7 linked regions of the Homo sapiens genome follow. The protein of the gene in region 1 interacts with the protein of each later gene in a pairwise test. Each region holds a gene or a part of one and is shown on either strand. Other genes may lie near its edges. The genes, in order: VKORC1L1, BRK1, AGT, CCT2, CISD2, GORAB and MTIF3.

Evidence for each region.
Region 2: the proteins of VKORC1L1 (region 1) and BRK1 interact in binary tests that used the Homo sapiens proteins (3 or more experiments, as listed by UniProt).
Region 3: the proteins of VKORC1L1 (region 1) and AGT interact in binary tests that used the Homo sapiens proteins (3 or more experiments, as listed by UniProt).
Region 4: the proteins of VKORC1L1 (region 1) and CCT2 interact in binary tests that used the Homo sapiens proteins (3 or more experiments, as listed by UniProt).
Region 5: the proteins of VKORC1L1 (region 1) and CISD2 interact in binary tests that used the Homo sapiens proteins (3 or more experiments, as listed by UniProt).
Region 6: the proteins of VKORC1L1 (region 1) and GORAB interact in binary tests that used the Homo sapiens proteins (3 or more experiments, as listed by UniProt).
Region 7: the proteins of VKORC1L1 (region 1) and MTIF3 interact in binary tests that used the Homo sapiens proteins (3 or more experiments, as listed by UniProt).

Annotation. Positions count from the first base shown.
Region 1 is NC_000007.14:65,879,574-65,883,073, forward strand, and holds part of VKORC1L1 (vitamin K epoxide reductase complex subunit 1-like protein 1), read left to right. Parts: intron 1-3,500. UniProt on the Homo sapiens protein: Involved in vitamin K metabolism. Can reduce inactive vitamin K 2,3-epoxide to active vitamin K, and may contribute to vitamin K-mediated protection against oxidative stress.
Region 2 is NC_000003.12:10,118,675-10,122,174, reverse strand, and holds part of BRK1 (protein BRICK1), read right to left. Parts: intron 1-3,500. UniProt on the Homo sapiens protein: Involved in regulation of actin and microtubule organization. Part of a WAVE complex that activates the Arp2/3 complex. As component of the WAVE1 complex, required for BDNF-NTRK2 endocytic trafficking and signaling from early endosomes.
Region 3 is NC_000001.11:230,707,623-230,711,122, reverse strand, and holds part of AGT (angiotensinogen precursor), read left to right. Parts: intron 1-269; 5' UTR 270-299; coding exon 300-1,128; intron 1,129-3,500. UniProt on the Homo sapiens protein: Essential component of the renin-angiotensin system (RAS), a potent regulator of blood pressure, body fluid and electrolyte homeostasis.
Region 4 is NC_000012.12:69,595,459-69,598,764, reverse strand, and holds part of CCT2 (T-complex protein 1 subunit beta), read right to left. Parts: intron 1,610-3,306; coding exon 1,490-1,609; intron 1,128-1,489; coding exon 999-1,127; intron 798-998; coding exon 694-797; intron 444-693; coding exon 344-443; intron 1-343. UniProt on the Homo sapiens protein: Component of the chaperonin-containing T-complex (TRiC), a molecular chaperone complex that assists the folding of actin, tubulin and other proteins upon ATP hydrolysis.
Region 5 is NC_000004.12:102,875,492-102,878,991, reverse strand, and holds part of CISD2 (CDGSH iron-sulfur domain-containing protein 2), read right to left. Parts: intron 1-3,500. UniProt on the Homo sapiens protein: Regulator of autophagy that contributes to antagonize BECN1-mediated cellular autophagy at the endoplasmic reticulum.
Region 6 is NC_000001.11:170,542,166-170,545,665, reverse strand, and holds part of GORAB (RAB6-interacting golgin), read right to left. Parts: intron 3,176-3,500; coding exon 3,074-3,175; intron 962-3,073; coding exon 821-961; coding exon of another isoform or gene 817-820; exon of another isoform or gene 1-816.
Region 7 is NC_000013.11:27,437,854-27,440,564, reverse strand, and holds part of MTIF3 (translation initiation factor IF-3, mitochondrial), read left to right. Parts: intron 1-115; 5' UTR 116-116; coding exon 117-576; intron 577-2,711. UniProt on the Homo sapiens protein: IF-3 binds to the 28S ribosomal subunit and shifts the equilibrium between 55S ribosomes and their 39S and 28S subunits in favor of the free subunits, thus enhancing the availability of 28S subunits on which protein synthesis initiation begins.

The sequences.
Region 1 (3,500 bases):
GTAGTACAGTGGCAGAGGCCTGATTCTAACCCAGGCAGTCTGGCTCAAGAGTCCAAGCTCTTTACCACTACTCTTTCGTCTTCCTTTCTTCCTTTCCCTCCCACCCTCCTTCTTCCTTTCCTTTCTTTTCTCTCTTTCTTTTCCTTCCTTCTTTTCTTTCTTTTTCCTTCCTTCCTTCCTTTTCTTTATTTTTCCTTCTTCCTTCCTCCTTCGTTCCTTGCTTCCTTCTTTCCTTTTCTTTTTCTTTCCTTTCCTTTTTTTTTCTTTCCTTTCTTTTCTTTCTTCTTTAACTTTTTGAGACATTGTCTCACTCTGTCTCCCCAGGCTGAGTGCAGTGGTGCAGTCATGGCTCACTGCAGCCTCAACCTCCCTGGGTCAAGTGATCCTCCAACCTCAGCTTCCTGAGTAGCTGGGTCTACAGTTGCACACCCCACCATGCCTAGCTAATTTTTTCTATTTTTCATAGTGACGAGGTCTCACTTTGTTGCCTGAGTTGGTCTCAAACTCCTGGCCTCAAGCAGTCTTCCCACTTGGCCTCCCAAAGTGCTGAGATTACAGGTGTGAGCCACCACGCCCAGCCTTTTACCACTACTTTAAATTCCATTTAGATCTAATATTGATAGAGTGATAACCATATCAACCAGATTTTTTAAATATGCAAACAATGGTGCCAGTTTCTGTATCTATGTGACAAAAATATATAGAGTTTGTGGTATCACTTTTACCTGTTTAGAGCACTCTTTGGAAAGGCAGGGAAATTACTGTGAAGGTATTGGTATTCCAGAAGTAAGTTCCTGGAGTGTTTGCCTTCTAAGGTGTGAGGACGTGGTTTGTCACACCCAGTTAACTAACAGATAGACGGTGTAGTGAGCTGTCCGGAAGACTTAGCAGGTTAGCCTAGGGAGGAAGGAGAAAGGGGTTCTGGGCACATGGAGGGAGGGGGAGGGAAAAGAGTTTGTTTGAATCTGTCCTAGATTGGGGTAGCTTTTTCGGAGGGAGGCCTTGTCGTGTGGACCTGCTGCATATAAAGACAGGAGAATTGGACCTGAGGTGTGGTGCTAGCTAAAGCGCCACACAGATCTGGGAATTTAAGAGGAGTTCATTTCCTCAATCATTAGGAAGAACTTGAAAGGGTAGCAAACTGTGGTCATTTGAGAAGAACAGCAAGTGGTCATATTTGAATGTAACATATTCAACTGGGTTGGGAAAGAACCAGAATCTAGATCTTGCCCATAGCAAGTGCAAAACCAGGCGTTCTTATAAACCATGTACTCTTGTAAACACTGATAAGACATAGCACTGAGTCCTGAGCTTTTCTTCTATAAAGTTATTGTACAGGTTGAGGATCCCTAATCCGAAAATCCAAAATCTGAAATGCCCCTGTGAGCATTTCCGTTGAGTGTCATTGGCACTCAAAGTTTTGGATTTTGGACCATTTCAGATTTTGAACTTTCAGATTTGGGATGCTCAACCGGTATATAATGCACATATTCCCAAATCTGAAAAAATCCCAAATCCAAAGCATTTCAGCTCCAAAGTGTTTCAGATAAGGAATATTCAACCTGTACTACATTGTACTAGGCTTGTATTAGATTCCCAGTTTTCAAAATTTGTATCTCAGAATCCCTGTTCTCTGTCAATGAAACAGGGATTTCATACACCTTTGATTCACATTTTAATGTTTTAAGTTTAAAATATTATAAATGTTTATACACAGTCAAATGAATCTCATGCTAAATTTTAATATATTAGAGACAACTGATTTGTCTGCCAGGTTATCTCAAGAGAGTTAATACTGAGTGAAAACAAGTGAGAACCCTAAAAGATTACATACTGTATGATTGCATTTATGTAACATTATTGAAATAACAAACCTGCAGAGATGGAGAACAGATTTAGTGGTTGCTAGGAGTTAGGAATGGGAGGTGAGGGGTGGTGTGGTTATAAAGTGGTAGCATGAGGGAGCTGTGTAGGGATGGAACAGTTCAATGTCTCAGGTGTGATTATACAAAGCTGCAAATGTGATAAAAACTTCATACAACCACACACACACATACTGCATATAAATCCTAGCGTACTCAAGTCCCATTTTGCATACAAAACTGGTGAAACCTGAATAAACTCAGGATTGGAGGAATTTGGGCGAGGGTACTTGGGACCTCCCTGTGTACTTTTTTGTAAATTCCTGTGATTTATAATTATAGTAATTTTAAAATAAAAAGTTGGCCAGGCACAGTGGCTCATGCCTGTAATCCCAGCACTTTGGGAGGCTGAGGCGGATGTATCACGTGAGGTCAGGAGTTCAAGACCAGCTTGGCCAACATGGTGAAACCCCATCTCTACTAAAAATACAAAAATTAGCCGGGCATGGTAGTGGGTGCCTGTAGTCTGAGCTACCTGGGAGGCTGAGGCAGGAGAATCACTTGAACCTGGGAGGCAGAGGTTGCAGTGAGCTGAGATCATGCCACTGCACTCCAGCCTGAGCGACAGAGCAAACTCTGTCTCAAGAAAATAAAATAAAATAGACTGGGTGTAGTGGCTCACGCCTGTAACCCCAGCACTTTGGGAGACTGAGGCGGGTGGATCACCTGAGGTCGGGAGTTGGAGACCAGCCTGACCAACATGGTGAAACCCCATCTCTACTAAAAATACAAAATTAGTCGGGCATGGTGGTGCATGCCTGTAATCTCAGCTACTCGGGAGGCTGAGACAGGAGAGTTGCTTGAACCCAGGAGGCAGAGGTTGCAGTGAGCCAAGATCACGCCATTGCACTCCAGCCTGGGCAACAAGAGTGAAACTCCGTCTGAAAAATAAAATAAAATAAAATAAAAAGTAAAAAAGCAAAAAAAAAAAAAAAGTGCATTTAGAATATTTGAGAGAAAATAAGCAAAAGGAAGAAAATGTAAATTATCTATAATGCTTACACCCAGGACAATAATCCTTGGAATAGAGTGTCTCACTTTGTGTATAGAAATGAAACTTTTAAAATGCCATTTTATTTTTTAATTAAAATTTTTTCTTTCCTTTTTTTTCCTCCTCAGAGTTAGAAAGGATAAAAATGTTATTGATTAGTAAGACTGTAGCTTTATGTTGATATTTTGAAATTTTAGGCTAGTGCTTGTTTGTTCATGTAACATATAAGCACATTCAGTACTATTAGAACTGTTGCATTATGCAATAACATGACTGCCTAATGCATATATCAGGATTAGTACATATTGTAAAGTTTTTATTTTTTACCAAAATGTTTACGACTACCAAGTATTCATTCCTTAACACTATTACATAATTAATTTAGAAATGTTTTACTTTTAAAACTTCTGGACAGGTGTAATTAAATCCTTAGATAGCGTTAATGTACTATTTAAAAAACACACACAAAACATTATCATTGGCAAAACATGCTTTATCATCTATTCATCTTTGTGAATCCGGTTTTTCTTGATACCATGCCATCAAAACAAAACAAATTTGACATAAGACTGCCCAATCATCCATAA
Region 2 (3,500 bases), on another chromosome or scaffold:
GAGGCGGGCGGATCACCTGAGGTCGGAGTTCAAGACAAACCTGACCAACATGGAGAAACCCCATACCTACTAAAAATACAAAAAAAAAAGAAATCCTGTCTCTACTAAAAATACAAAATTAGCTAAGCATGGTGGCGCACACCTGTAATCCCAGCTACTCTGGAGGCTGAGGCAGGAGAATGGTTTAAACCCAGGAGGCGGAGGTTGCAGAGAGTCAAGACTGCACCACTGCACTCCAGCCTGGGCAACAGAGCGAGACTCCATCTCAAAAAAAAAAAAAAAAAAAAAAAAAGTGGCCGGGTGCAGAGGCTCACGCCTGTAATCCCAGCACTTTGGGAAGCCGAGGTGGGTGGATCACCTGAGGCAGTGAGCCGAGATTGCACCATTGCACTCCAGCCTGGACAACAAGAGTGAAACTCTGTCTTAAAAAAAAAAAAAGTTTGAGGAATATTTAATGAAATAGGAAAATATTCATGTTACGAAACCAAATGATATTTATGTACTTGTAATTTACAATTTATTTACATGTCTGTTTCACCGTTAGAACAAGTTAATCAAAAGAAGTACATATTGCCTCTTGTAACCTTAGCATCTTGCCTGGTACATAGATGTTGACTGAAAAAAAAAAGATGGATTCTGGTATATTAGTGGAACAAAAGATTGACTCTAGTGTAACTCTATTCACCTTACAAGTGGGAAAACTGAGGTCTAGGTAAGCTGAGGGCCCATGTTGGGTCACTGGTATTCTTTCCCATACTGTGTGCATCCCAATGCACACTACTATCATCTTTCTGTGCCTCCGGGGCTATAATTTATACCCCAGGTCTCCAGCCCAACTCTGCCACTTTCCATTCTTTCACCTGCTTAAAGTATACAATTCAGTGGTTTTTAGTATACTTACAGAGTTGTGCAATAATTATAATCTACTTTTAGAATATTTTCATCATCCCCAAAAGATACCTTATACCTCTTAGTCCTGTCACTCCCCATTCTGTCACCCCTCAGTCCCTGGGAACCACTAATCTTTGTCTCTATGGATTTGCCATTTCTGGACATTCTTCATTCTTTTTACGCTTGTGCTGCTTGAATTCCCAGGTCTAGCTTAAGTATGATCACTTCAGCATCCCCCTTTTCCTGGATGTACTGCCACTTTCTGTCGGAACTGCCCAACAGGACCAAGCCTCTTTTCAGTCTGGTTTTTGGAAGTCTGAAAGCACGTTATGTATGCTACTGAGTAAGAGCATGAATATTATCTCTGACAACCTGCCATTTCCCATGAAGACATACGAAAATTATTGGGGGAGGTAGGAGAGAGGGAAGTTTCCTTCCTGGGTGGCTATTCTGTTCTAGCTGTCAATCTGGTAATGAATTAGAATTCAAGAACAATACTATGCTCCTGGCCTACATGGATAAACACTGTTGAGAAATAGAAAATGTTCAACTGCAGAAACCTTGGTCATATTTCAAATCCTAATAAGTATACGCTGGTTCAAATAAAAAACACTGAGAAAGCATTCAGCAGCTGGATAAATCTGAAACCAGAGCACAAGTATGTGTACATTATCACCAGCCTTTAACTGAAAATACCAGTTCTCGTTAGGAAACAAATGCTGTTATCAGACAGCTCCTTCTCTGAACTTAATGCATATAACTTCAGCATTACAAAAATCAATACTGTCAGGCCGGGCACGGTGGTTCACACCTGTAATCCCAGCACTTTGGGAGGCTGAGGTGGGCAGATCACTTGAGGTCAGGAGTTTGAGACCAGCCTGGCTAACATGGCAAAACCCCATCTCTACTACTAATACAAAAAGTAGCTGGGCATGGTTGTGTGTGCCTGTAATCCCAGCTATTTGGGAGGCTGAGGCAGGAGAATCAGTTGAACCCAAGAGGCAGAGGTTGCAGTGAGTCAAGATTGCACCACTGTACTCAAGCCTGGGCAACACAGCAAGACTCCATCTTAAAAAAAAAAAAAGAATTAGCCAGGCGTGGTGGCGCATGCCTGTAGTCCCAGCTACTCAGGAGGCTGAGGCAGAAGAATCGCTTGAACCCGGGAGGCGGAGGTTGCAGTGAGCCGAGATTGCACCACTGCACTCCAGCCTGGGCGACAGAATGAGACTCTGTCTCAAAAAAAAAACAAAAACTGTCTTTCTTTTGGAATGTTTTTGTAGTTAAGTCTTACTTTTCCAGCAAAATTCTGAATGTCTTAGGAGTGGGTATCATACCCATTTATTCATATTTATTCCTTTCTCACAGCATCTGACACACACCAGGCATGCTACATTTGTTGGCTCAGTACAAAAACCAAGATTTTAAAAAAACAGCCACATTCTCTATTTTGTCTTTATACTTCTCTGCATATATTACCTTTAGAACCAGAAAAAAATAGCATAAGAATAAAAAGCGATAATCTCTAACCATCTATTTTTAGAAACTTCACCAATTCCAAAGTGCAAAATAGGCCTAGTGTTATGATATTTTTGCTACATTACGATTTGTATGTCCTCAAGTTCACGTGGGAGACTGTGACTCTACTCTCACCAGCAGGAATCACAAGGTAAATGCTTTTCAGAAAGTCATTCACTATCTTAGAACAACAGTTCTCTCTCCAAAATACATGGCCCATGCAGATTCTCTGTGGTCAGGGTAAGGACTACAGAATTGCTAACATATTTGAAGAACTTCAGATGCTCCCTCAAAGTAAATTCTTTTTCTTTGAGAGAGAGTCTCACTCTGTCACCCAGGCTGGAGTACAGTGGCACGATCTTGGCTCACTGCAACCTTTGCCTCCAGGGTTCAAGTGATTCTCATGCCTCAGCCTCCCAGGTAGCTTGGAATTACAGGCATGAGACACCATGCCTGGCTAATTTTTGTATTTTTTATAGAGATGGGGTTTCGCCATATTGGCCAGGCTGGTCTCAAACTCCTGAGCTCAAGTGATTCACCTGCCTCGGCCTCCCAAAGTGCTGGGATTATAGGCATGAGCCACTGTGCCTGGCCTCAAAGTAAATTCTTTTTTTTTTTTTTTTTTGAGATGGAGTCTTGCTCTTTCGCCCAGGCAGGAGTGCAGTGGCGCGAGTGCAGAGCTTGCAGTGAGCCGAGATCGCACCACTGCACTCCAGGCAACAGAACAAGACTCCGTCTCAAAAAAACAAACAAAACAAACAAACAAAAAAAACCATTAGGAAAAGGAAATATATTTACTATTCATTAAATGGCAGTGGATCATCATAAAGGTCTTCATCCTCATTGTCTTCCTGCTGAGTAGGCTGAGGAAGAAGGGGAAGAAGAGAGGTTGGTTTTGCTACCTCATGGGTGGCAGAGGTGGAAGGGGAGGCAGGAGAGGTAGGCATACTGTATAACTTTTATCGCAATAAATCCACTTATGGCCAGGCACAGTGGCTCATGCCTGTAATCCCAGCACTTTGGGAGGTTGAACAGAGGTGGATCACTTGAGGCCAGGAGTTCAAGAGCAGCATGGCCAACATGGCGAATCCTGT
Region 3 (3,500 bases), on another chromosome or scaffold:
GTCCTGGGGTTGAGGACTTCAACACGGGCATTATGGCCGTTGGGGGAGGTAGGACATAATTCAGCTGATATTGGTGCATTTTGCACTTGGATCATGTAGATATTTTCCATGGAGCTTTGAATCCATTTCTTCTTTTTTTTGTAGACATGAATGGATTTATTCTGGGCTAAATGGTGACAGGGAATATTGAGACAATGAAAGATCTGGTTAGATGGCACTTAAAGGTCAGTTAATAACCACCTTTCACCCTTTGCAAAATGATATTTCAGGGTATGCGGAAGCGAGCACCCCAGTCTGAGATGGCTCCTGCCGGTGTGAGCCTGAGGGCCACCATCCTCTGCCTCCTGGCCTGGGCTGGCCTGGCTGCAGGTGACCGGGTGTACATACACCCCTTCCACCTCGTCATCCACAATGAGAGTACCTGTGAGCAGCTGGCAAAGGCCAATGCCGGGAAGCCCAAAGACCCCACCTTCATACCTGCTCCAATTCAGGCCAAGACATCCCCTGTGGATGAAAAGGCCCTACAGGACCAGCTGGTGCTAGTCGCTGCAAAACTTGACACCGAAGACAAGTTGAGGGCCGCAATGGTCGGGATGCTGGCCAACTTCTTGGGCTTCCGTATATATGGCATGCACAGTGAGCTATGGGGCGTGGTCCATGGGGCCACCGTCCTCTCCCCAACGGCTGTCTTTGGCACCCTGGCCTCTCTCTATCTGGGAGCCTTGGACCACACAGCTGACAGGCTACAGGCAATCCTGGGTGTTCCTTGGAAGGACAAGAACTGCACCTCCCGGCTGGATGCGCACAAGGTCCTGTCTGCCCTGCAGGCTGTACAGGGCCTGCTAGTGGCCCAGGGCAGGGCTGATAGCCAGGCCCAGCTGCTGCTGTCCACGGTGGTGGGCGTGTTCACAGCCCCAGGCCTGCACCTGAAGCAGCCGTTTGTGCAGGGCCTGGCTCTCTATACCCCTGTGGTCCTCCCACGCTCTCTGGACTTCACAGAACTGGATGTTGCTGCTGAGAAGATTGACAGGTTCATGCAGGCTGTGACAGGATGGAAGACTGGCTGCTCCCTGATGGGAGCCAGTGTGGACAGCACCCTGGCTTTCAACACCTACGTCCACTTCCAAGGTAAGGCAAACCTCTCTGCTGGCTCTGGCCCTAGGACTTAGTATCCAATGTGTAGCTGAGATCAGCCAGTCAGGCCTTGGAGATGGGCAGGGGGCAGCCCTGCGGACATACCTGGTGACCACCCTTGAGAAGTGGGGAAGTGGCTGCTCCGCTGGGTCCCTGGATGGGCCGTCCACCTCCTGGACCTGCTGCCCTACTATGTGCACGACTATACAACATCCTTTTTCTTACATCATTTAATCCCCTTATGATGTGGTGAAGAGGTATTTGTGCCTTTGTTTACCAGTGAAGAAATAGAGACTCGGAGAAACAAAGTGCCTTGCTCAAGATGGCACAGCCACCAGTGGGGGTCCTGGGATTGAAACCCACATCTCCTGGCCCCACAGCCCAGTTCTACACTCAGAAGGGTCAGGTTCATATCTCTTGAGAAGGTCAGGAACTGGGGTCCCTGGCCCATGCAGAAATAAGCAATTGGCTTGCTTAAATCCCTTTCATGTTAGGAGGGGCATTACTGAAAACCCTCTACTACAAAGATTGTTGATTTTTTTTTTTTTTTTTATTGAGACAGGGTCTTGTTCTGTCACCCAGGCTGCAGTGTAGTGGTGCCATCATTGCTCACTGTAGCCTTGAACTCCTGGCCTCAAGCGATCCTCCCACCTCTGCCTTCCAAAGTGTTGGGATTAAAGGTGTGAGCCACTGCACCCAGCCACAGATTGCTTAAAGCATTCATTTAACAAATACTTGTTGAGGATTTGCTACTTGTAAGACTTTAAGCCTGGCATCTCAGAGGAGGCCAGAGGAGGGCTGTATAGGCCCTGCCTCCAGGCTTTTAAAGGTCAATGGGCAAATGCCTAGGATTTGGAGCTGCAGGGAAACGTGCTCCACAAGGTAACTCAGGGAAGCCTCGGGGCTCTCAGAGGACAGAGGTCACTGGGGAGCGGAGAGCAGGCCTTGCCTGGCAGTGAGGGCAACAGGGCTGGTGAAGCTAGGAGCAAGCATGATGAGCCCAGCCTGCAGAGTTTGGGGCAAGGAACGAGGATGGGGCGGTTGGCTTGGCATGAGTGTTGAACCAGAAAATGGGCCTGGGGAGGGCAGAGCTGGAGACACTTTGAACGCCATGCTTGGTAGGTGTGGGAATGGGGACGCGTTCTGTTCAGAGGTCATCCCGGAAGCCTGCCGTGTGCAGACTGGAGGCAGGGAGGATTGTTTGAAGGTTACGCAAGAGTCCAGGCACACAGTCACGGGAACACGTGCTCAGGGAGCAGCTCGGCAAATCCATGGGTGGGGTGGGGCTGAGGGGTGTGTCTAAGAGACACTGAGGAGGCTCTGTCAAGATGTTAACCTCGTGAGGGACAGAGAGCCAGGCGGGAGGTGAAAGACAAGACTGTGGAGAAAGAGGTTCAGTGGCGCATAGTGATTTTTCTTACCACAACAACCTCCTTGAGGTCTTTCCCTTCGGGTTCAGGGAGAGGTGATAGATGGGGGGATTGCTCAGCCCTGGCACTGACTGGTCACAGGGGCAGAGGCCAGCCCGAGGGTTGCCCGGTTGAGGGTGGCAGCACACTGTGCAGGGCAGAGCAGGGACACATGGACTTAGCCTGCTGTCCCTAGGAGAAGTGCTGGGAGGAGCGCTCACTGAGAAGGAGGGTCCTGCAGAAGGCAAAGGCAAGAAAGCCAGTGGCATCTGAAATGGGTCTCCCTTCGAAAGAGAGCACATCCACCTGACCCAGACCGCAGAGCCAGGCCAGGAGGAAGAGGAGGAAGAATAAAAAAGCCAACCACATCGGGACTCAAAGGAAGCCCAGGATCCTCGCCGGCCTCCACCGCATGCTGCCCTGACCCTGCCCCACTTCCTAACTTTGCTGGCCTCAGTTTCCGTCAAAGGAGGCAGCCACTTCCTGCCCACATGGTCTGTCCAGTGAGGAGATCGGGGGCTGTCTCGGGACCTCTAGGTTTCCCTTTAGCAATGATGTTCTATTTACATGACCTCAGCAGGCAGCTAGATGTGTCCCACTAGAGAGGACCTGAGGATCTGGGGCCTGATGGGCTCCAGGGTACCGTCTGCCCAGTGCTTGCTGTGCTCCTGAGCATGGGGCGCTGGCCCTGGTGGTTTCCATGACACCAGGTCCTGACTTGACCTCGACAGATTTACCTAGCCTCCGGATGAGAATGGTGAGCTGTGCATGTCAGACGAGCAGAGGGAAGACGGCAGCCACTCTCATGTCAAATCCCAGCGTCTTTTGGGAGGCAGCTTCCCTTTTTTAGTTTAGTTTGTTGGAAGAAAAGAATTGTCCCTTTCCCCCCTCTAAACTAAAAGCCTTGCCAGCCCAGGTGGGCAGCACCGAGGTCCCTGCAGGGAACGTGCAAGGGGA
Region 4 (3,306 bases), on another chromosome or scaffold:
CTATGAAATTAGAAGTTAATACTGATTGTATAAACAACATAATAGTTTATGTTATTTTTCAGAATGTAAGTATTGTTTATATTTAAATCCTATAGTCGTTATATACCAAATAGTTACAAATCTTCTAACCAGTTTTACATGTCTTATGGAATAACAAAGTTTGGGAAATGCTGAGCATATAAAGTCACACACATTTTCCCAGCACATGTAATGATTATGAGGACAAAGTCCAAAAGAGTCTTTTATACGGTTATTGTAACTCTTTATGTTCCAAAAGAAAAAAAAAGCTTAGTGAAAAGAGTTACTTTTAACAACGGCCACAAAGTTCCCCTTGATTGCTTACCCAATCCAGCAGTGGTATTGCCTTCACTGTGAGCAGCCCTGAGCTGTGCCACCAGGTCTGCACTGTCATAGCCTGCATTGTCAGCTATGATGGTTGGCAACTATGAAAATGAAGAAAACAAGTAACTACTCACTCTACTGTAAGAACCACTGATTTACTCCTAACTAGGATAGCTTTTTAAAATTATACATTTAGGAACAATGTAAAATCTGCTTCAGTTACTGCTCACGAAGAGGAGAAACTCCAGAATCAAATTTAAAAGCAGTATTAACCAGTTCATTTTCTACTCATTTTAAAACTATCAATAACCACAAAACTTAAGTTCGGATCTCTCATTTTGATTAACTTACCATTCTCAGTGCTTTAGCATAAGACTCCATTGCAACAGCTTCTTTGCCTGGTGTTCTATTGGCAAGCTGTGTCACAGCATGAGCCATCAACATCTCAGAACAGCCTAAAGATTAAAATTCCAATAAAATATTGCAATGCTTAGTTGTCTCCAAGATACTGAATTACTGACTTTAAGATATGCCAAGCATTTTAAAATTTAGTGCAAAAGCAATATAAGATTTCTGTAAGAACCATTAAAACCACTTATGACTTATATTGTACTTTAAGAAATTAAAAATATATTCAACATTTTCTAAATGCTTACCTCCTCCATAAACTGTTCTAGAGTCCTTTACAGTTTGCGCAAGAACACAAAGAGCATCATGCAATGATCTTTCTGCTTCATCTAAAATTTGTTGAGTGGCACCACGCAAAACAATGGTACAAGCCTCACCTAAAATTAAAAGACACAGTGACCACTTAGGGATAAAAAGTTTGCCTTCTATTATTTATGCCGGTGTTGGTTATATTACTGGGTTCTGAAAGCTGACCTGTCTTCCTGTATTATACATTCTCCAACAATCAAGGCTCATAATGGTTCTAAGTTATCAAGGAAAAAAAACTGTTGAACATGCACTGTTCACAAAGACACGGTAAATATGAGGTTGACTCAAGAGACTGAAACAAAGTATGTATCATGCTTCTGAAGAGTTAAGACTTGTAAGATATGCTATTCTAGTAACTACAATAACCTTTACTTCAACAGAGCCTAGCAAGAATTTAGACACCCTAACCAGGATCTACATAATCACTCACCAAGGGCAACCCCAGAAAAGTGAATGAGTTTGTCTTCTCCAATCATGACTTCCTCGATAAGTTTGCAACTTCCAAGCTTCACCAGTTCTGGGTGATCAAAGGTAGAGGCAATTTCACCACCTATAAACATAAACATGTATTAGTTAAATGCACAGCAGGCTTAAAATTCCTGTTTTCTAATAAGCAGTAATGGATAGATAATGATAGGTAATGTGTTTCACATTTTAAAAATTGATTGCTGATTATATTCCTGGCACTCTTTTTAAATACTTCATATCGACTAATTATTTAATCTTTAAAATAATCCTCTTGGATAGGCTCCATTATTATCCCATTTTACACATGATAAAAATGAGGCCAAGAGGTTTACCTTCCTATCCAAAGACCTAACTAGGATGAATATAAAAAGCTGGGGTTCAAACTCAAGCAGTCTGGCTTCAGACCTATAAGCACACACTATACAATACTACCTTCCCAAGGTTAAACTGAGTCTTAAAGCAGTTACTTTTGAGTTTAAATTCAGATTCTCTTCTGAATCCAACCTATAAGACTAAGACCTCATGATACAATTCCCAGCACAAGACATGAAAATATTTGTCCTATAAGTCAACCACTATACACTTCATGAACTGCTTAATAAGCACCTGATATCTCTAATTATCACAAATGAAATGTCCTAAGGCCTAAAAAAACAAGAAATGCATACTAAGAATTTCCCAGACCAAATTTAATAAGAACAAATTAATTTAGTCCTTATGTCTCATTTCTATTCCTATTTTCCCTCCATCTTCCATGCTGTAAACTGAACAGGTCAGCCACTTCGTTCCCTATTTCCTAACTAAGCAAAAGTCAGGTTTCCATTTCAAAATCCTTTTCTCTAGCTGACTACTCCTTTCATAATGTGAATTGCATATATTATCAATCAACCCTTCTTTTCCTATGCCTTACTGATAAATCTGTCAATGCTCTATTATTTATTTTATAATAAATTCATAAAGACTCTGGTCTTTGAAACTACTAATTTATACTCATAATTTGTATAAAGTTCTTTTTACTTTTGGCTGGCAAAATTCTGAGACTGCTTTGTGTTCTAGATGTGAGACACAACAGATATTTGGGACGTCATATCCAAAAATAAGACTAACTTGGCTTATGAAACTTTTCACTTCATCCTTCTACATGAGACTTTTCTTTCTTTTTAAAGAGAGAGTGTCTTGCTACCTTGCCTAGACTGGAGCGCAATGACTATTCACCAGGCACCATCATAGCACAACCTCCTGGGCACAAGCAATCTTTCTGCCTCAGCCTCTTGAATAGATCAAACTGCTGGCACATGCCACCATGCCCAGTGCAAGACATTTATTTAATGACACTTGCAAGAACCAATGTCATCATACACCTTTGACAACCACTGAGCTTTTAAGGATGGGAGCCACCATGTGGTCACCTTCATAGACATACAGTTGGTGTACTTAATAAACATTCTTCTGGGTATAGAGCAATTTCATGTCAAGACCTTACGATATGTTTATCCCATCAATATATTATTACCATTTACTTCTTACATCTTTTTTTTTTTTTTTTTTTGAGACGGAGTCTCGCTCTGTCACCCAGGCTGGAGTGCAGTGGCGCCAATCTCAGCTCACTGCAACCTCCACCTCCCGGGTTCAAGTGATTCTCCTGCCTCAGCCTCCCGAGTAGCTGCGACTACAGGCACCCACCACCACGCCTGGCTAATTTTTTTATTTTTAGTAGAGACAGGGTTTCACCATATTGACCAGGCTGGTCTCAAACTCCAGACCTTGTGATCTGCCCAC
Region 5 (3,500 bases), on another chromosome or scaffold:
TTTCCTGAGGCCTCCCTAGTCATGCGTAACTGTGAGTCAATTAAACTTATTTCTTTTATAAATTACCCAGTTTGGGGTAGTATTTTTATTTTATGTTTTTATTTCTTTTATAGCAGTGTGAAAGCTAATACAGTAAATTGCTACAACAGAGAGTTGGGTACTGCTATAAAGATACCTGAAAATGTGGAAGCAATTTTGGAACTGGGTAACTGGCAGAGGTTGGAACACTTTGGAGGGCTCAGAAGACAGTAAGATGTGGGAAAGTCTGGAACTTCCTAGAGACTTATTGAATGGTTTTGACCAAAATGCTGACAGTGATATGGACAATAACATCCAGGCTGACGTGGTCTCAGCTGGAGATGAGGAACTTACTGGGAAATGGAGCAAAGGTCACTCTTGCTATGCTTTAGCAAACAGACTGGTGGCATTTTGCCCCTGCCCAAGAGACTGATGAAACTTGAGAGAGAGATGACCTGAAATCGGAACTTAGGTTTAAAAGGGAAGCAGAGCATAAAAGTTTGGAAAATTTGCAGTCTGATGATGCAACAGAAAAGAAAAACCCAGCTGGGTGCTGGTGGCCCATGCCTGTAATCCTAGCACTTTGGGAGGCTGAGGCGGGCAGATCATGAGGTCAAGACATCGAGACCGTCCTGGCCAACATGGTGAAACCCCGTCTCTACTAAAAATACAAAATTAGCTGGGCATGGTGGTGCACACCTGTAGTTCTACTCGGGAGGCTGAGGCAGGAGAATCACTTGAACCCAGGAGGCGGAGGTTGCAGCAAGCTGAGATTGTGTCACTGCACTCCAGCTTGGGTGACAGTGTGAGACTCTGTCCCCCTCCTTCCCCCCGCCCCCCCAAAAAAAAGAAAAACCCATTTTCTGGGGAGAAATTCAAGCTGGCTGCAGAAATTTGCATAAGTAACAAGGAGCCAAATATTAATTGCCAAGACAATGGGGAAAATGTCTCCAGGACATGTCAGAGGTCTTCACAGCAGGCCCTTCCATCACAGGCCCAGAGGCCTAGAAGGAAAAAATGGTTTTGTGGGCCAGGCCCAGGGCTTTGCTGCTTTGTGCAGTATTGGGACTTGATGCCCTGTGTCCCAGCCATGGCTAAAAGGGGCCAACATACAGCTTGAGCCACTGCTTCAGAGGGAGCAAGCCACAAGCCTTGGTGGCTTCCATGTGGTGTTGGGCCTGTGGGTGCATAGAAGTCTAGAATTGAGGTTTGGGAACTTCACCCTAGATTTCAAAGGATGTATGGAAACACCTGGATGTCCAGGCAGAAGTCTACTGCAGGGGTGGAGCCTTCATGGAGAACCTCTGCTAGGGCAGTGCAAAGGGGAAATGTGGGGTTGGAGCCCTCACACAGAGTCCCCACTGTGTCACTGCCTGGCAGAGCCATGAGAAGGCGGCTACCTGCTCCAGACCCCAGAATGGTATATCTAACAACAGCTTGCACCATGCATCTGGAAAAGCCGCAGGCACTCGATGCCAGCCCTTGAAGGAGCTGCCCAAGGCCATGGGAGCCTACCCCTGGCATCAGTGTTCTCCAGATGTGACATGGGGTCAAGGAGAACATTTTGGAGCTTTATGATTTAATGACTGCCCCACTGGATTTCAGACTTGCATGGGCCCTGTGGCCCTTCTGTTTTGGCCAATTTTGCCCATTTGGAATAGGTGTATTTACCCAGTGCCTGTACTGCCATTGTATCTTAAAAGGAACTAACTTATGTTTTATTTTACTGGCTCATAGGTGGAAGGGACTTGCCTTGTTTCAGATGAGACTCTGTACTGTGGACTTTTGAGTTAATGATGAAATGAATTAAGACTCTGGAGGACTGTTGGGAAGGCATGATTGATTTTGAAATGCAAAATGAATGTGAAATTTGGGAGGAGCCAGGGGTGGAATAATATGGCTTGGCTCTGTGTCCCCACCCAAATCTCACCTCTTATAATCCCCATAATTTCCACATGTTGAGGGAGGAAACTGGTGGGAGGTGATTGGATCATGGGAGTGGTTTTCCCCATGCTGTTCGCATGAGATCTGGTTTTATAAGGGGCTCTTGCCCTTTCACTCCTCACTCTTCTCTCTCCAGCCTCCTTGTGAAGAAGGTGTCTGCGCTCCCTTCTACCATGACCGTAAGTTTCCTAAGGCCTACCTAGCCATGCAGAACTGTGAGTCAACTAAACCTCTTTCCTTTATAAATTACCCATTCTTGGGTATTATCTTTTTTTTTTTTCCAGATGGAGTCTTACTCTGTCACCACGCTGGAGTGCAGTGGCATGATCTTGGCTCACTGCAATCTCCACCTCAGGGGTTCAAGTGATTCTCCTGCCTCAGCCTCCTGAGTAGCTGGGATTACAGGTGTGCATCACCAAACCCAGCTAATTTTTTTGTATTTTTAGTACAGATGGGGTTTCACCATGTTGACCAGGATGGTCTCGATCTCCTGACCTCATGATCTGCCCACCTTGGCCTCTCAAAGTACTGGGATTACAGGCATGAGCCACAGCACCTGGCCTCTTGAGTAGTTACCTTTATAGCAGTGTGAAAACAGACTAATACACCTACTATGTAGAGATACTGTGCTAAATGCAAATACAGTAGCTGTCTTATTTATATCTATGTAACCAGTGCTTAGTAATTTGCACATAACAGGACTTCAGTAAACAACTAATTCAGTTTATCTGTGGTATAAATCCAGATTTTCATATACTTGGAACCAGGTTTCTTTTGTCTGTAAAGCAGGAATAACAACTGTAAGCTCATTTGTTCAACAATATTTACTTAGTACCTACCACACTCCACAAACTGCACTATGTGGGGATACAGGCTAATAGATAAGGTCCCTTCTCTCATAGGGTATATATTTCAGAGGACAGAGACTATAAACAAGTGAACAAATAAACAAGATGATCACAGACTATAGTAACTGTTATAAAGGAAATAAAGGATGACATAAGAGAAAAACTAACCTGGGGCAAAGCAGTAGGGTGGCTGCAATTTTAGGTAAGGGGTCAGGGAAGGTTTCTGAAAAAAGAACCTTTAAGCAGAGACCTAACGAATGAGAAGCCAGGAGCTCAAGCACTTGAGCGCAGAATTTTCAAGGCACAAAGAAAAGTAAAGAGTCTTCTAACTTCATAGGATTGCTGGGAGAAACGAATGAAGTAGGAACCCACTCAGTAAAAACTACAGAACACAATTCAAACTATTAATGCATTCTGCCTTAAAACTATATAGTTAGGTAAATATTTGTCTCCTCCCCAACTAAACAAAAAATCCCTAACTCCCTACCCTTTAACAGAGACTTACATAAACCAAGACCTCAGTAAGTTTTAGCCTAATTGAGTTTGTACTCCAATAAACTGGCATTTGAGATAATTCCTACAAGGTCTGTACTTACTTGTCTTTGTTCATGGCTTATGAATAATGACAGTGTAAGTTAAAATACAGGAAGACTACTTAAAATATTTAAGAAAAAAACTTTCAGCACCTTC
Region 6 (3,500 bases), on another chromosome or scaffold:
AGTGTAACAGAGTAAGATAGAAAACTGAGTCATTAACACAGCATTCCCTTGTGAAAAAAGACAAACCAGGATGATTAAAGCAATGTTGAAAGGGCTGAAAACCCTGAAATTGGACATATTTTTTTGCCCTTTTATCTGTCTGCAAAGTCCATGTAATTCATTACATGTGTTAGTTCATTTTAAAAATACTCCATGGTATTTTTTCTCTTTTAAAAAATGCCAATGGTTGAAACCAAGGAAACATATATTAAACCATTTCATACAGAGTATAATTGAAAGGAAAAAAAAAGAGAAAATATTTCAAATTTCCAAGACAGAGGATATGCTTAAAATATTCATAAGCTTTTAAAAACTAAACTAGATCCTCTTACTCTGATGAAAGCTAAAGTGAGGACTAGACTTCAATCCTATAGGACTATATCAGATATCAAAAATTTTAATGGAAAGAACACAGACTTGGTGTCAGAGTAACAGTTTTGGCGAAACCACTCAGATATTTACTTTGCTAGATGCTGAAAGATGAGCAAAAACACTTCCAAACATTAAATAGCTGAGGGTTTCGCAGCAAAGACTAAAACGTAAATAAATAATGCAAGAACTGCTCTAATGGCACACGAACAAGGTTAACTAGTAGGGCAGAGTTAAGGAAGACTTCACTGAAGAGGAGACACTTGAATTAGCACAAAAGAAGAATAAATACAGCACTGAATGGGGTTGTTTTGAGGCTTCAATGATGATATACATAAAAGCCCCTGGAACAGCTGGCAATAAACATTAATTAAATCATACTCCTTGTTCAGATTCAATTTCCCCAACTCACCGAGCGTATGAATAGTCTAAGCTGGCCTGATCAATCCGGTTCCTGAGAATTCCAATGTCAGCTGACACCATGTCATCTAAAGCCTGCAACTCCTTCTGGATCCGCTTTAGTTTCATGGTCTCTGCCTGAGTTCTTTTGGATCTAGAAAATCAGGTATGTGAGTGGGAAAATAAGAACATTTTAAAACCATGTGTCCATATACAATGTAAGTGAAAAAGCAAGATACTGCATATACATTTATAATTTATATTTTAAAAGTTAGAAAAAAATCAGAAAAATTGAAATAAAGTAAAAGCTGGTTAACATTTGAGTTTTTGAAATTTTATATTTGCATGTTTCATAAAGTAACAAATAAGTCTAAAAAAACTCAGCAAATAGTTCATTTTAGATTGATATTCATTCTGTAAAGAGAACAAACACTAAAAGAATATATCTGTGTTCCCTTTACATTGAAACATTCAACAGAGCTTTCCAAATTTCTAGTCTTTAATTCTTCCTCTTGCTAAGCCCATTTTCATTTGTCTGATACTTACCTGACATTAAGAACAGATAGATGTCTATACTAAACCACACCTCTTTATATATCTGAGAACATCCACTTAGTTTTAACTTTCTTGGGACCCATTTCCCCAAACTTTTATTGCTTTGATTCTTGTTCTCTAGGAAAACTACTAGTTACGAAAATTCTTTATGGAGCTGAACATCAAAACACTCATTTTCCTTATTTAAAAGCACATCCAACCTCATAATTTCTCAATCCCCTCTCCCAAGTACAATATATACTTAAGAAAGGGAACAAACAAATAAAAAAGCAACCCTTTAATCATGATTTCACTCATTTCAAATTTTCACACACATTGTGAAGGAAGAAGAAAAATCCCCACATAAATCCACCATGTTACATAGCACATTCTCTTGATTTCTACTCTTAGGCATTTACCCTTCCTTTCTGCCTACAAAACTTCACTTAACAGTATGATTCTTTTACGTCAAGTACTTCATTGTCCATTTATTAATAGTTCAAACGTTGTATTTCCTTACACTTCTGTTTATACTGGTGCTGTCTAAAATCAAAAGCACTTATGAGAAGAACTGCTGAGCCTGTACATCTTTTTGTAAAACCACAGAAAACAGCCTTCCCATCTCTTAGAAATTGAAGACTACTAAAATGCTTTAATTATTTTTAAATAATCACTTACCAAAAAAAAAAAAAAAGAGGGCACTACTCTTTTATCTGCTGGTTTTTTCCTTTGAAACATAGTAACTCAGTGAGTTGCATTATTTCCTATGCTTCAAGAAAGATCAAGGTGTACCAGTAGTAGAAAAAGAAAAATCACCATTTCTCAACTACACTCACTCCTCTGGCAGACAAAATTCTGAACTACTCTTATACCCATCACCTTCTTCCCTCTTCTCCTGCCCCTACACATACTCTAGCTTCAAGCAGTAACAGTTTGACAGACTTTTCTGGAAGTCTAAAAAGAAAATGTACTTCCTTGCATTTAGTTTTCACTATTCACAACCATGGATATATTGACTAAGTTTAGTTTCCTAAGGCCACAGGAGATTAGACAGAAACTACAAACTCAGCAAGAGTGGTGGGGGATGGGAAGAATGATTCCAATGGGAATGTTGTTGTGTGCGGCTGGTACAATGCAGTAAATGTGAAGGGGCTGCTGATAGACACTGGAAGGTGAAAGAAAAATTGAATCTCACACAGTGCTCATAATAATGACCCTGAGTCATCAATAAAAAGTTAAACTATATCATGTATCTTCTACTTGTGGAGGCGGGGCAAATTATTTAAGAAAAATGCCCATAGGAAATCCAATTAAGATTCATGGGAGTATGTCACTTATGTAGAAAACCTTATTCCTCTACACATCAAATGATTAAGGCCTCCCCACATAAAAATTAAAACTTGCATTTGTTGCTAATTTACATATACTGATAGCTATTTACTGCTTCCCTTATGAATGTGTAGATGGTTAAAACTGGGAGCACTAATGAAGGTCTTTAAAACTGCAACTATATTTACAAATTTAATATGCTCTATGCTTAAAAAGTTCTCTTTAATAAATTATAACTAGTATTTCAGTATCACTTATAAAGCATAATTTGTTTAGTTAGTCTTAAAAGTAATGGTTGAAGAAAAAATATCAGTTTATTAAAAGAGACATGGGAAAACAAATATAACACATGACACAACTGGTTACAGGTTACAAACAGCCTCTCCTGGTTCAGGTGCCTCACCTTTCTGCAATAGCTTTAGCCAAAAGAGCTTTTTTACGTTTATTTTTCTCTTCCATTAGCCGTTGTTCTTGTTGGAGGACTTCCCAACGAGATTTTTCTTGCCTAGGGGGCAAAAAAAGCATAAAAATGAGTTTATGAAAGAAAAAGAAACTGCTACCCTATCCAACACCTTACCAGTCTCAGTCCTCTAAGTATAAAATTTAATCAAGAAGATTTATGTATATGTTCTTTCAAAAGTCCTCTTAAAAGAAACCCATCTGCAGTTCATTATTTTGCTCTAATGGGAACAAAGACTACGATCTAAAGTAAAGAGGCTTACATAAATTGGACCTCTGAAATCCATTATATATATAATCTAGGAATCCACAAACTGGAAGCCAGAATACTGTGGCATGTGTTTAGGAGTACAAAGAAATTTGTGTAAGTT
Region 7 (2,711 bases), on another chromosome or scaffold:
TCACACTTGCAGTTACAGCCTCCACAACCTCACACACACCCTGCCATGTACCACAATGTCAGACCAAGGGAATAAGTGATTGAATTTTAATGAACTCTTCTTACTACTTTCTTAGGATGGCTGCTCTTTTTCTAAAGAGGTTAACACTACAAACTGTAAAGTCTGAAAATAGTTGCATTAGATGTTTTGGTAAACACATCCTGCAAAAGACAGCACCAGCACAGTTGTCCCCTATTGCTTCTGCCCCAAGACTCTCCTTCCTAATTCATGCAAAAGCCTTTAGTACCGCTGAAGACACCCAGAATGAAGGAAAAAAGACAAAAAAGAATAAAACAGCTTTTAGTAACGTTGGAAGAAAAATTAGTCAGCGAGTTATTCACTTATTTGATGAGAAGGGCAATGATTTGGGAAACATGCACCGAGCAAATGTGATTAGACTTATGGATGAGCGAGACCTGCGACTGGTTCAAAGGAACACCAGCACAGAACCTGCAGAGTATCAGCTCATGACAGGATTGCAGATCCTCCAGGAGCGGCAGAGGCTGAGGGAGATGGAGAAGGCGAACCCCAAAACTGGTAGGTATTTTGCTGTTGGCTCCCTGAATCCTTTAAGAGCTACAAATCAGCAGTTTAAATTCTAGCATTTGTCAAGGTGCCTGTGACAAGAGGGAAATGAGAAACTAGAAAATTCATGATTCAACCACCATTCCCAGTGTCTGTCTTTCCTCCTTTATCCTGCACTTACTCCTGTTCCCTTTTTTTCACTGTTTTTCCACAATACCCTGCCCATTATCTCTTCCCTTTAAACCTGTGTAAAATGTGGGAGAAACCAGGCAAACAAACCAAAGTGAAGAGAACTCTTTCCCCTGTCCTGTGGCCTTCTCCCAATGCCGCAGCAAGCTGAGTAGCCGATGGGGTGAAACAGAGTGAGATTAGGAGGGGTACATTCAAGTTCCCTGCCCTCTGCCGGGCCACTCATTTAACCTCCCTCCTTTTGTTTTTCTTCCCCTTCTTCAACTCTAAAGTGGAGGTGTTTGGTTAATTATCTGGAAGCACCTTTTTATTTTTTTGAGATGAGTCTCTGCCTGCCGCCCAGGCTGGAGTGCAGTGGTGCGATGTGTGCTCACTGCAACCTTCGCCTCCCAGGCTCAAGCGATTCTCCTGCCTTAGCCTCCCCAGTGGCTGGGATTACAGGCGCCCGCCACCACGCCCGGCTAATTTTTGTATTTTTAATAGAGAGGGGGTTTCACCATGTTGGCCAGGCTGGTCTTGAACTCCTGGCCTTAAGTGATCTGCCCTCCTCGGCCTCCCAAAGTGCTGGGATTACAGGCGTGATCCACTGCGCCTAGCCTGGAAGCACCTTTTCGACTCTGAAGTGATTCACAGAGCATCTCCCATGCCAAAGCATTGTGTTGCAATATCAGTAGCAACACTCTTAGATATACAACCAGTCACTTGACGAGGCACTTGTCATTTAAGCCTCACAGAAGTCAGGAATTGGATATTAAGCAAAGATGTTTGTTTTTCATAGTTCCTAAAAAGTGCCAATCATTATGAAAGTTCAATGGATGGCGCACGGGGACAGGCATCAGATGACTGCTCCCAGCACTGCATCGTGAGGTTGTGTGCCTTCAGAAAACCACATGTTATCTGCGGCTCAGTTTTGTAATGCCACATTTAACAAGGATGTTGACTGGAAAACAATATTCAGAAGAGACCAACCAGGGAGGATAATGACGTCAAACTATGTCACTTAAAAAAAAAAAGGTCACTGGGCGTGGTGGCTCACGTCTGTAATCCCAGCACTTTGGGAGGCCAAGGCAGGTGGATGGCTTGAGCTCAGGAATTCAATACCAGCCTGGGCAATATAGCAAAACCCCATCTCTACAAAAAATTTTAAAATTAGCAAGGTGTAGTGGTGCAAACCTGTGATCCCAGCTACTTGGGAGGCTGAGGTGGGAGGATCACTTGAGCCTAGGAGGCAAAGGCTGCAGTGAAGAACCATGATCATGCCACTGCACTTCAGCCTGGGTGACAGAGCGAGACCCTGTGTTTAAAAAAAAAAAAAAAAAAAAAAAAAACAGTCTTGCTCTGTTGCCCAGGCTGGAGTGCTGTGGTGTGATTTCGGCTCACTGCAGCCTCCATCTCCTGGGATCCAGCAATCCTCCCACCTCTGCCTCCCACACAGCTGGGACCACAGGTGCACACCACCATGCCTGGCCTTTTTTTTTTTTTTTTTTTTTTGTAGAGATGGGGTCTCGCTATGTTGCTCAGGTCTTGAACTCCTGAGCTCCAACGATCTGCCTGCTTCAGCCTCCCAAAGTGCTGGGATTATAGGCGTGAGCCAGCACACCTGGCCCCCAATCTTTATGATGAACCCTGGTGCATACTCTAGGGTCTATGAACCTAAATGGATCAAACTGCTCAGCAGCAGTGTATGCAGTTTCTCTACCTCCTCCCTCATTTGTCATTTTAATGGTGAGAAATTAATGTGTATTTCACTTTTTTCTTCTGTGAATTGCGTGTTTATATTCCTTTATTTTTCTACGTAGATGGTTTTTCTCCGATTTATAGGGTTCTCTGTTGTGTATGATGGAAAAAACCGTATCCCAGTTAGATTTTTCATTTTGCCTTTTTTTCTTAATGAGTTCCATCCCCTATCCTGAGATCACAAACCATTCTGTCTTTTCTTCTGTTTGTTTTAAAGTTGT